Linked DNA regions of Homo sapiens: all the other regions are reported to be linked to region 4. The links are microRNA targets in miRTarBase. Many come from high-throughput screens and were not tested one by one. Region 4 holds a microRNA gene; each other region holds the end of a gene's coding sequence. Distances are between the middles of the regions.

Region 1 (3,125 bases), not on the chromosome of region 4:
CTGGGATTACAGGCGTGAGCCACCGCACCTGGCCAAGCTCTGTTCTTTTCAAATCCCAATCCCTGGGAAGGCACAGTGCCCTCTCCAGGTCCACCTGTGAGCAGGGCAAGGCTGGGCCACTCCACCAGCTCCAGGGGGCCGCGGTCCTGTACATGCCATGCAGGCAGCACAGAACGTTCCAGCCCCAGGCTTTTTGTCAGTGTGGCTTTTGAATGTCACTGCATCCCGCAAGAGACACCGTAATGCTGTTTTAATTATTTCTTTCCCCTGCTGGGAAATCACCTCCATCAAAATGGCTATTCTGAACCCATCCCCAGCCTAGCAACAGCCGGAACTGAGAGGGAATATTAAACTGTTTTCTAAAACTTCGGTGTTGGCATTCGATTTCATATCAAAACTTACTCCAAAGCTCTGATCTGCGGCAGGAAGACAAAAAGCTAACAAGATCAGAAAGGCCAGGCTCACTACGGAGAATGCTGAGAGATGCCAAGGAAGGGGGCTGCTTTGCAGCAGGTGCACCCCAGGGGGTCAGCGGGTCATCACCCTGGGAAGGAGCTGGGGGAGGGGGGGGCGCCACAGCGAGGGACTGACTGCGACCAGAGGCCAGCCCAGAAAGCATGGCCGATGGGATCCCCAGTTCTCTGCAGAGCTGGGGTGAGCGAGGGGGTGAACAACCCATAACTGAGTGAGCAGCGACTCCTTTTATAGGATACTCTAAGGGAGATGCTCTCAGGGCTACAGGGAGAGTAACATGAACACTTCATATCCTCCCGGTACAAGGCAAATTATGCCCCCCACAAATCCACATGCTGAAGTCCTAACCCCAGCACCTCTGATGTGATGGTATTTGGAGACAGGGTCTTTATGGAGGTAATCAAGATTAAATGAGGTCATATAAGTGGGCCCTAATCCAATAGGACCGCAGCCCTTCTAAAAAGAGGGGTGCAGGCTGGGCATGTCCGCTCATGCCTATAATCCCAGCACTTTGGGAGGCTGAGGTGGGTGGGTCGCTCAAGCCCAGGGGTTTGAGAACAGCCTGGGCAACATGGTGAAACCCCATCTCTACAAAAAATACAAAAATTAGATGGGCCTAGTGGTGTGCACTTGTGGTCCCCGCTACTTGGGAGGCTGAGGTGGGAGGATCAATTGAGCCTGGGAGATCAAGGCTGCAGTGAGCTGAGATGGCACCACTTTACTCCTGGGTGACACAGTGAGAACTTGTCTCAAAAAAAAAAAAAAAAATAGGCTGGGCACAGTGGCTCACGCCTGTAATCCCAACACTTTGGGAGGCTGAGGCAGGCAGATCATGAGGTCAGGAGATCAAGACCATCCTGGCCAACATGGTGAAACCCCGTCTCTACTAAAAATACAAAAATTAGCCAGGTGTGGTGGCACCTGCCTGTAATGCCAGCTACTTGGGAGGCTGAGGCAGGAGAATCGCTTGAACCTGGGAGGCAGAGGTTGCAGTGAGCTGAGATCACACCACTGCACTCCAGCCTGGTGACAGAGCGAGACTCTGTCTCAAAAAATAAAAACAAAAATAAAAAATAAAATAAAAGAGGCGGTGAGGACACAGACACACAGAGGGGAGACCATGTGAAGACACGGGGAGAAGCCGGCATCTACAAGCCAAGGCGAAAGGCCTGAGGATGTAATTCTCTGATGTCTGAGCCACTCCCCTGTGGCACTTTACTACACAGTGCCAGTGAACCAATGCACCCCCCTCATTTTAAAGTTTCCAAAGATGCATTCATTCCCAAAAAGGGCCTCTGAAGGGGAAAGCTGTGACCCAAGCTGTCTCAAGCAGCACAATTAGAGCCATCTCCAGACCCAGCCCCTCAACCACAGCAAGAAATTAAGAAACGTCCCCAGCAGACAGCTCCTTTCAAGGACTGTGGGAGCTGGGCCATCCTGAGTCTTGGATGTTTGTGCAAAACCTACATTAAAACGAGTGACCAAGAAGTGATAGGAATGTGGGTGGAGGACACCCATGTCACATCTAAGCTTCTGGGACTTTAAAGTTTTTCAAACTGCAAAACCCTTTTATTTTTAATAAAAGGCCTCACTTCCAAGGAGAGCCCAGCCCAGGAGATCCCCGGTGAATCGTCAAGCCTGGGTCCTCGGGGAGCCGGCGTTCCTGCTGAGCTGATGTTGTACTTCTGAAGGCCTGTGATCGCTAACTGCACCATGAGGCAGAATGCAGGGTGCTCTCAACCAGCTGGGGGTTGGGGTTCAGGCTTTTTTTCATCTTTCGGCCAAGGCAGACAACAACGGACTCATCATCCCACGCGACTGAGTGACGCGAGGCTTCAAACGCAAGCACGAGTGTTTAGAATCCTGCATTTTCAAAGGCTCTTGCCCACTGGGAACTACATGGAGAGGAGATTAAGAACAACAACCAAAAGAGGCAGGGGGTGGGGCAGGCGTGAGGTAGGGGTGGGGTGGGGATGACAGTCAACACAGCTTGGACCAGAAGCCCATGGCGCCTGGCTCCCTGGAAAGGCACAGGGCACAGACGGATGCCGCCTTTCTTGCTGGGACACTCCTGCCACCATCCACAGCTCCCCCGTCACTCCACGTTCTTGTACTTGGTGAACAGGTTGTAAAGAACCCTCAGGGTGGATTTGAGGTCCAAGTTAACCACGTCTGCAGAAGGAAACAGAGAAACTTCAGAGGCGTGCCATCCTCCTGTCATTGCGGTAGGTACTCTCAGAAGCCACGTCTCCAGCATGACACCAGCTGCCGCATCCACACACAGCGCTTCCCCTTAAAGACTGGCCACCACCATGTCCAGGACGCTCTGGGCAGTGCCTCCCCAGACACACAGGTTTTGTGAGAGCTCCTGGCGCGGGCTGACACCCTGCGGGGACAGGCACCTGGGGTGACAAGAACAGAGACACTCCCACAGCCCCTCCTGGATCTGCATCAGGACATGTCTAAGAACCGGTTGGGGGACATGGCTAATGACACTTACCGGGACCAAAAACCCCAGTAACACTTAATGGACCCGACAGCTCCCTCTGGGGCCCTGGAAGTCTTGGGCCACTTTCTTTATGTGGACAAGAACCTTCCTGGGAATCAGACACCTTGTTCATTTCACTTGCTCTGTGACCTCTAAGTGACTT
Region 2 (3,125 bases), not on the chromosome of region 4:
GAAAAGTAGAAAATGAAACAGATACACATACATGCATACACTACATTTTCCTTATCTGTTCATGTGTTGATGGACACTTAGGTTGATTCCATACCTTGTCACTAAGAAAAGCAGATCATAAACTTTGATCTGTTGTGATTTTGGATCTTAGCACCCAGGCATCCCATCAATACCAAATTTGAAAGATTAGTTGCTTATTGCATGTGTGTAAAAATACTCATAAACTTGAGGGAAGTTCCACAGGCTAATCCTAGTTTGAAGTCTTACAAGTATGAACAATGAGATACTTAGGATTTACTGGAAAGAGCACAAGACTCGGAGTCAAAAAATTTGGGTCTGCTCCATCTGCATTATTTACAAGTTCATGATCCTGGGCAAACCATCACTCCAGCCTGAGTTTTGTCACCTGTGAATTGGGGATAAAATTGGTTACTGCATAGAGTTGCTATTAAAATCAAATGAGATAATGGACTATATATGAGATTGTCTGGTAAAATGTAAAGCCCAATACAAATGTTAAATACTATTGTCACTATTACAACAATTGGTCACAAAGGACATCTGTAAAAAAAATAGAAATGGTATAATGAAAATTCATCCTACTAACAAAAATATAACCAAGCAGAAGCACCTTTCTATTTAAAAAGAATGAATATGATCCTTCCCAGGACATAAAATATGGTACTTGACCTCACACAACTCACAGTGACAGTGGAACCAATCTCCCCCTGTGTGATGACTAATATCCACATGTGCCTAGCATGTACCTCAATTCTCAGATTCAGGTAAGAAAAAGATATGTTTGAGAGAATAGATTAATGAAAGTAGATTAGTGTGATCCATAGGAAGTGAAAAAAAAATATTTAAGAATGCCAAGTGTTGTCCTTTGGATTTCAGATCCCCCTGGAACTGAAACAAAGAAGGCTAGAAAGAAGGAAGAGAATAAGTTGTGTAGAAGGGTCTGTAGAAAGAGGCATGGGGTTCCAAGGAGGGAAGGACATTAGGAAAGTAGCATGTTGTAAAGGAAAGAGCCCTGCACCAGGAGTCAAGAAACAGCTCTAGTCCCAGCACTGCCACAGGCTCTCTATGAAACCCAGGGCAGGCCACTGCCCCTCTCTGGGCATCAGTTTCTCTACCTACAATACAAAGGAGGCATTGTAAAACCAGTTAGCACAGCTATTCAGTCATTTACAAAATATTTATTAAGCGTTTATTATGCAATAGGCAGTGTTCTAGTCACAGAGACGTGGGAGAAAATAAAAACAGACACAGTTCCTACTGCCATGGATCTGGCATTCTAAATGATCTCCCTCCAACTCAAAGACCTGGCACACTAGAACTCTGACTGTAGGCTGTGGTGAGGCCACAGTAGACAGGCAAAATGGCTAAATGACTGAAGAGCAGACAGCGTGACCTCTTCAAAGGCAGTCTATTTTTTTTAAGCAGAATCAAGTGCCCCTCATTCTCATATTGCCCCACTTCAGTTCCTGGGCCTTGGAGCTTAATACAGATCATGGCATCCAACTGACTTTTATTCTGCTTTTTTTTTTTTTTTTGAGACGGCATCTCGCTCTGTTGCCCAGGCTGGAGTGCAGTGGCATGGTCTCGGCTCACTGCCATCTCCACCTCCTGGGTTCATGCCATTCTCCCGCCTCAGCCTCCCGAGTAGCTGGGACTACAGGTGCCCGCCAACACACCAGGCTAATTTTTTGTATTTTTAGTAGAGATGGGGTTTAATCATGTTAGCCAGGATGGTCTTGATCTCTTTTTTTTTTTTTTTTTGAGACGGAGTCCCGCTCTGTCGCCCAGGCCGGACTGCGGACTGCAGTGGCGCAATCTCGGCTCACTGCAAGCTCCGCTTCCCGGGTTCACGCCATTCTCCTGCCTCAGCCTCCCGAGTAGCTGGGACTACAGGCGCCCGCCACCGCGCCCGGCTAATTTGGTCTTGATCTCTTGACCTCGTGATCCGCCCGCCTCAGCCTCCCAAAGCGCTGGGATTACAGGCGTGAGCCTGATTTTTATTCTGAAAGCCAAGGCTAGGGCTCAAAGAAACTTCCAGAAATATAAAGATGTTTTGTTTTGTTTTTCAGTTAGATAATTAGATACATTACAGCAGAGAAATGGGGAAATTATTTGATACTTTTTAAAAAGCATATCTAAAATGACTAACATTAATGTATAGGTAAAATTTCATAAAAATTAATGATCACTATAATTGTTCCTAATCTCTGTTTTCTATACTAGGAAAAACACAATTTATATATGAATTTTTGCTATATGTAGACAGAATTGTTCCTAATCTCTGCTTTTTATAATAGGAAAAACACGATTTATATATGAATTATTTGCTATATGTAGAGAGAATATAATACCTCTTTTACCAAACATGAAGCCCTAGCCTTGATTTCTGTGGTACATTAAAAAAATATACTTTGCATTGCCAAAAGAGACATAGTATTGGGTTTTGATCCGTATTTTCTGTTGCTCATTCATTACATTGGTGTAAAAGAAGGAAAATCTTAAAAGACATGGAAAGCAGCTCCCTTATAGAGAGCTATCAAAAGAGCGTCCCAAGAGTGTCCTGACCACACTTTTCTTCCCAGATCATGGGCCCCAGCATCTCCGAGCACACACTGTCTTCCACAGGATCTTCTGACAAGTCTGCTTCACCCTAGGAATCCCCATGATCAATATGAGAGAATGAAGAGAAGGATAGGCTGCCATGAGTGTCTCCCAGATGAAGACACTGGTGAGATCAGGAGGATAAGTCTTGGAGGTGATGGAGAAGGGGCTGGCCATGATATAAACCAGGTGAAGTAAGAGGAAGCAGCCCAAGGACTTCAGCGCAGTGATGTGAGCCTTGGCCCGGACATCCCTCCTACCAGCTGAATGGACCTTCATCTTCTTGTGGTGTGTATACAAAGAGACAATCAGCATCCCAGAGGAAACAAGAAACACCACTAAAGGCAAATAACTTCCTGAATTGAGCTGAAATGCATACAGGTACTGCCAGCTTTCAAAGGGATACCGAATGCTGCTGTTTCCTTGGGGAGGATGATAGAATGTTAAGCCAATTTGGACTGTAAGTAACAAATTGATTATAAAGTAGCCCAGAAGGCACCAGA
Region 3 (3,125 bases), 82 Mb from region 4:
AGGGATCCATTCGGAACCCTGTCATGTTTGCTTACATGCCTGAAGATTTCCTTTGAGCAAGGGGTTTAAGGAGTATGAAAACCATCGTTGGTTATTCCAAATCTGAACTTCATAGGATCAAACAAGATGAGTATGTTAGCTCTGTCTGGCTCAAACCATCCTTTAGTAAACATACCATTCTCAACAAAATTCAGGCTTTTTGGAACACTGACTATGGTTAGGTTTACGCCATGGTGGTAGCTTGTAGAGTGGTGTTGGAAGCTCGATCCAGATGCTGGTTTCTGTAGGTACCTTCTGCCCAATCACCAATCTTCATGTAGAAACAACCTAGAAATAATCACCCAGAGGCAAGTGCATGTCAAAACTGAGAAATTCGGATGCAGAATTTCAAATTTTCAGTTCTAAAATGTCAACTCAATTAAACATGCTATACTAAAAGAAGAGCCAAGTAGAGAATATCCCTAGGTAAAGCTTAAGAAGAGGAAATGGCTAGAAACCATGAAATTACTACATAAAAAACAAAACAAAACAAAAAAAAACACAAGGTAAGTTTCCCATGTCTTTGATTACTTGTTATCTCAGTACATGAAATGCACGATTTTGCTAATGGTTAAAACTTCACTAATTCTATCTATGCCTACCAGTATTTCTTATTATTTCTAATAAGCATCTAAAACTGACAATTCTTTATTGAAATCAAGAAAACAAAAAATAGAAACCATAAATTTAGTAGCTAAAAGAGACAGTATGCTACCATGAATTGTTTGTCATATGCATTTAACTCAGTGACTACTTTTGGGACCAAAATATACCCAAGTTAATACAGGAATTTAGTTTACACATCAATAGAGATAAAATAAATTCCAGAATTGTTATCTATTCTTTCCACAAGAAAAATCTATTTCTTCCTAATCATACTAACTATAATTGCTAATGTCTTTATTTTTAAATAATCAAAAACCAAAAAGCCAAACAACAACAACAAAAACCTCAAACACATGAAAATCATGACCAAACCAAACTTAAATACTTTTCAGCTACTAGGGAAAAGCAATACAAGTAATTGAGCTAAAGGAAGTTATCCTTTATGAATTCCAAATTTAGAGAAGATATGTTGTATTCCCATAATAACTAACTATAAATACAAAGAAGGAAGAGAATACATTATTAAAACTTTGAGCCCAATTCTATTTAAGTTGGGAGTTTATTAGCAGAAATTCTAATGAATATAATAACTGGAAATATAATTTGGGGCTATAAAAAGCTCTGTACCAAAGTTAACTTTCATCTTATTCTATAATCACATTTAGTCTGAAAGCTTAGGCTAAGGGCTTAAAGGGTTCTCATTGTATAACTTATGATTTTTCTATAAAATATCACTTTAAGTAAAATAAATTAGTAAGGTTTGGCCTGTACAGTATCTATGACATTTCAAAATCTCACCGAATGTTGATTCTAGGCAGTAACTTAAGAAAGTAAAAATCCTTAAAAATTCCAAAATGATAGGAAAATCAGGCTGGATGCATTTCAACTGCGGTGAAAAGGTTAATGGGATTTTAAACTATGAAGTCTACTTTTCCCCTACAGACCCAGTATTTATTTCCTTAAGACTATTTTGGAGCCAATCAACATCATAAATAAAAGATTATTATTCCCACCTTTATGATTTAATGAATCAATAATGTTTTCCTAGCCAAGAACACAGGTAACCTACATAACGTCAGACATCTAAAGCTAGTACAGAAATCATCTAAAGGCTTTGAAATATTTGACCTGATGGCTTTAAGCATTTGTAAATTAATGGCTTTTGGGAGGAAGGAAGAACTAAGGCACTCAAAGATACCACAACATCTTACAATCTATAATGAAAGGAAAAAACTACTAATACTAGTTCTTGAAACTCACAAGTTATAATGTAGAACAAATGTCATTTTAGTTGATTTTCAATGTTTATACATGTGATATAAATTACATGTATGACAACACTAATCCAAAAGAAAATAATGATGTACAAAATGTTTATGATAAGTAAAATTATTGCATTTAATGTCATTTTCATGAAATGAAAATCATCAAATTCCTTAATGTTGTATCAAACGTAAACAATACCAGTTCAAATTAGAGGGAATGTATGTCAACACCAACTTTTGACAAAAATAAGAAAGCTAAAGCCCTACAATTTATCTAATTTAGGTCAGGTAACCATGGAAACAAAAGAATATTAAAATTATTTATTTTATCATTATGCACATTGAAGGAAATCATAACAGACAGTACAGTTCTTTTCCACCATAAAATTATATACACCCATTTATTTAGCTAGAAACACTAGCTTGAGAGGTACTGATATATTCCATTTGTGATACTTTCTGTACAGCAAACAAATGTCTTATATTTGGAGCATGTTGAAGAAAACATTGTCTCAAGTCTTTTTTGTTTTTTTGAGTCTCAATCACTAAGAGTTCAAGGTACTTTGGGAGAATCGTGGTGTCCTGGATGGCCTGATCAATGTATTAAAATCAAGCAGTATGTCTTCTTAAAATACTCTTAAATCCATACAAATGTTGCTTGGGTTGTGGAGCTGAGATTTCTCCTACTGGCATGATAAAATTTGAACATGTGTTATGAAAGTTTCACACCAATTTTGTTTTGTTCCTTCTTCATTAGCCGTTGTGCTTCCTTTTCCATTTTCTTCCTTTGTTGTTCGGCTGCTCTCTTTTCTCTGTCTGCTAGTTTCTGCTGTCTGAAAAGAAACATACTTTTACTTTTAGAAAATACCAAACAGGTAAAATGGCAAATAAATTCTAGAAAGAAATAGCAGTGCCTTTTTATTATCACCAAATAAAATGTTGAAAGTCTTAAAATTTTCTCACTAATTTGAAAATTCCAAATATTTTCAAAAACAGGATTTCTCTTAGTCCTTAGAACGTGACTTGTGAAATAGAAGAAATATTATCTCTATTTTACAAATAAGTAAAATGAGGCATAAAGGCTAAGTGACTTGCCCGAAGTCATAGGATTAAGTACAGGGATAAGAACTCACATCTTCTGACACTTCTTATTTAGATTATCTCCATTTTGTAAAACAATACTTCCATTGAACCACATCTTTTTCTGGGGATACC
Region 4 (3,125 bases):
GTGTATCATTTCATCAAAACTCTTATTTTCCATTATGTTTTTTTCCCCACAGGTATTTTTTTCTCACTGTAAAAAAAAAAAAAAAAAAAAAAAAAAAAAAGTAGAAAGCACAGGTAAGCAAAAAACAAAAAACCACACACAAAACCACAAACTTTAAGTTACCCACAATCACATTGTTGCCATTTTGCTGTAGGTTCTCCCAGATTTCTGTCCAAGAATGAACCCTCCAGAACCTCCTAGGAGATTCTTTCCAGGTCCGGAGTCCTGGGTTTGTAGTTCAAGCCCCATCTTGAAGGTGCTGTGCAACCTTGAACAGATCCCCCCCAACCCTAGTCTCAGTTTATCCAGACTGCACCTGCATCCTGGGAACAGGCATGGCTGTGCGTTTGATAACCACACCCATTGCCGGTTGGGAGACCAGGTTTTTCTCTCAAGGGAGCCGCAGTCTGTTGCCTTTTGCCACCATTTTGCAAATCAGATCTCAATTCTGGGCCCACCCAGCCACCCCATCCTGTCCCCTCCAGCCTCACCCTGACTTCTCAGCTTTCACTTTTTTCTGCTGATGGGTTGGAAATTGCTACTCTCCTGTTTTCTCTCCACCTGCACTAACAAACCCCAAGTGCTGCCCCCAGCACGAATCCCTGGTTCCCGGGTCCTCTGCCAGGTGCAGGTGCTGCGGCTTCATGTTCAAAGGATTCTGGGCACTGCGCTTTCTCCCTTGATGTGCCCAGCCAGGCTGCGGGGATGGGAGGCTCCTCTCCTGTGCGGCTCAGGCTGTTTTTCTCCCCAGAGCCTTGTGGCCAAGTTTCCGTGGCCCTGTGCTCTGGACCCTGGGCCAGGGCTGTGGTGTGGGCAGCCTTGAGGCCCTGGGTTCCATGCCAGTTCTCGACAGGAAGGCCTTTCATGTGGGTGCCAGCTGGCCTCTGGGCCCAGCTTCGGGCCTGGCAGGGCCTGAGGAGGGAGAGCTGCGAGTGTGAAAAACACTTTCTGTTTGGGAGCTGGTTGGTGGGAAGGAAAGACAAGAGGGAGGGGGACAGGCAGGTCAAAGAGCTTACCCAGGTTTAGAGGAGCGAGGCCAAGGTGCCCCTGTAGAAATGAGGCGATTCGGCCTTTCCTCCCCAAAAAGAGGTCTTGGCAGAGATACAAGGAAGCAAAGTCTGTTGGGTGGGGATGGAAAACACTTTCCCAAGCCTGCCTTCACTCCCTCCCTCCCCCGGGCTCACTGAGCCTAATCAGGTCAAGCACGCAGCTCCCTGCCAGACACTGTGGCATTGTTTAAAGCCGCTGCCTCCCCAGTACCCTCTCCCCACAGAACTGAGTTCTGACAAAGGAGGCCCTGAGGGACAGGGCTGAGAGGACAGAGACCCAAGGTCCAGGGACGCGTCACTCCCCTATGGCTCGCTCTCCTTCCCACTGGTTATTGTTTTTCTACCCTGGACCCCAGGGAGAAAAGGAGCCAGGCCCTGGCAAACCTGAAGGCTGTTTGTGTTGACATAAAGGCACTTTCTGAGCAAACAGCACTGAAAGGTCAGCAGTAACCCCAGGCAGTGCCAGGACTGGGCAGCGGGTTTGGGAGGTGTGGAGAGAAAGGAAACTGTGGGCCACTTGGGGTCGGATGACTTCACCAGAAGAAGAAGAAAAGCCAGCCAGGCTGCAGGGAGGGGGCTTCCTGGAGATGGAGCCCTGGAAGACCTTGGCTACCCCATAAAACTTAAATAGGACTTGAAGTCAGTTGTTTATCTGCTTTCCAGAACACCAATGACATGGGAGAGAGGCTGGCGCCCTAGGCAGGACCCAAGCGAGCCTGGTGTCTGGGGCAGGATCTGCCACTACGCTTGGCTTTCTCACTGTAGGACTCAGTTTGCATGGGAAACCAAAGGAGAATTTCAAGTGTCCTACTCACACATATTCTAGCCTTTCAGGAAACATTTACTGAGCATACATCACCCACCTGATAGGGGGCTAAGCCTGGGAATGCTTTCAGAGATGAGTAGCACAAGGTCTCAGATAAGGTGACCCATTTTCCCCGTTTGCCTGGGCCTCCCAGTTTTAGCACTGAACATCCCTTAGCTCAGGAAGCCCAGGAAACCCTTTGGTTTGGGGCATACTTGGTTGGTTGGTCACCCTAGCATCAGTCATCAAGCAGCTCACGATCTGCAAACAATGGTAGACATACGAGTGATATAATAGAGGGTGCACAGGCATGGGAGGTCAGGTGAGCTCAGCTCCCTGCCTCACCTGAGCTCCCGTGCCTGTGCACCCTCTATTGGCTATGATCACACCACTGCACTCCAGCCTGGGTGACAAAACAAGACCTTGCCACTAAAAAAAAGAGAAAGAAAGAAAAGAAAGAAAGAGAGAAAGAGAAAGAAAGAGAGGAAGGAAGGAAGGAAAGAAAAAGCTACTTTTTGAATGAAAGAATGAAAAAGCATCTCTCAGCTAGGAAATGTCTTGCCATGATGACACCTGTGTTCAATGGGGAGCTACGAGAACATTTTAAAAAAATCTACTGTACTGAGGCATAATTTACATATAATACAATGCATACACTTCAATGTAGACTTTGATGAATTTTAACAAATATATACACTCAGTAACTGTTAAATCAATCAAAATATTTATAGCACCCCAGAAACTTCCCTATTTCTCTTTTGTAGTTAATCCCATCCTAACCATCCCATCCCAGGTAACCACTTACCTGATTTCTGTAACTATAGATTCATTTTAGTTTTTCTAGAACATCATCTCAATGGAATAATACAGTCTGTACTCTTTTGAGTGACTTCCTCTACTCAATGTGCTTTTGAGATTTATCCAAGTTGGTTTGCATATCACTAGTTTTTTTGTTTTTTTTTTACTGGTGAGTATGGATTTATCATAATTTTTCCATGCATTTGCCTATTGATGAACATTTGACTTGTTTCCAGTTTTTTGCTATTCTGGACAATGCTGTTGTGAATAGTATGTACAAATTTTGGTATAGAAAAACATTTTCATTTCTCTTGGGTAAAAACCCAGAAGTGAAATTGCTGGATCATAGGTTAAGTATGTGTTCAGATTTATAGGAAATCACCTAACTTTTCCAAAAGGGTTGTACCACTTCACAGTTTCACCATTAATGCATG

The links. The annotated mature microRNA hsa-miR-3622b-5p reads AGGCAUGGGAGGUCAGGUGA and lies in region 4 at 2,200-2,219, shown strand. An mRNA with a match to its seed (bases 2 to 7 or 8) in the 3' UTR can be bound and repressed. Matches are read on the target gene's strand: a 7mer-m8 pairs with bases 2 to 8, a 7mer-A1 pairs with bases 2 to 7 and ends in A, and an 8mer does both.
Region 1: the mRNA of PARVB is a reported target of hsa-miR-3622b-5p. The part of its 3' UTR that is shown has no 7-base or 8-base seed match.
Region 2: the mRNA of TAS2R5 is a reported target of hsa-miR-3622b-5p. The part of its 3' UTR that is shown has no 7-base or 8-base seed match.
Region 3: miRTarBase lists EBAG9 as a target of hsa-miR-3622b-5p. Seed matches in the 3' UTR shown: 7mer-A1 at 2,598-2,604.

The regions. Positions count from the first base shown.
Region 1 is chr22:44,168,123-44,171,247 of GRCh38, reverse strand. PARVB (parvin beta) reads right to left here. Exons shown (of 13, transcript NM_013327.5): 13 at 1-2,646. The coding sequence ends at 2,570. Among named protein-coding and RNA genes, the nearest start is that of PARVG, 11 kb to the left of the region's middle. RefSeq lists enhancers at 630-1,151, 3,042-3,125.
Region 2 is chr7:141,790,741-141,793,865 of GRCh38, reverse strand. TAS2R5 (taste 2 receptor member 5) reads right to left here. Exons shown (of 1, transcript NM_018980.3): 1 at 2,499-3,125. The coding sequence ends at 2,605. Among named protein-coding and RNA genes, the nearest start is that of TAS2R5, 2.1 kb to the right of the region's middle.
Region 3 is chr8:109,564,057-109,567,181 of GRCh38, reverse strand. EBAG9 (estrogen receptor binding site associated antigen 9) reads right to left here. Exons shown (of 7, transcript NM_004215.5): 7 at 1,186-2,743. The coding sequence ends at 2,623. Among named protein-coding and RNA genes, the nearest start is that of EBAG9, 25 kb to the right of the region's middle.
Region 4 is chr8:27,700,820-27,703,944 of GRCh38, reverse strand. MIR3622B (microRNA 3622b) reads left to right here and starts at 2,178; the gene lies at 2,178-2,272. It overlaps MIR3622A (microRNA 3622a), which reads right to left and starts at 2,268; the gene lies at 2,186-2,268. LOC124901920 (a long non-coding RNA gene) reads right to left here and starts at 2,975. Exons shown (of 2, transcript XR_007060869.1): 1 at 1-2,975. It also overlaps a transcript of SCARA3 not described here. RefSeq lists a silencer at 666-811.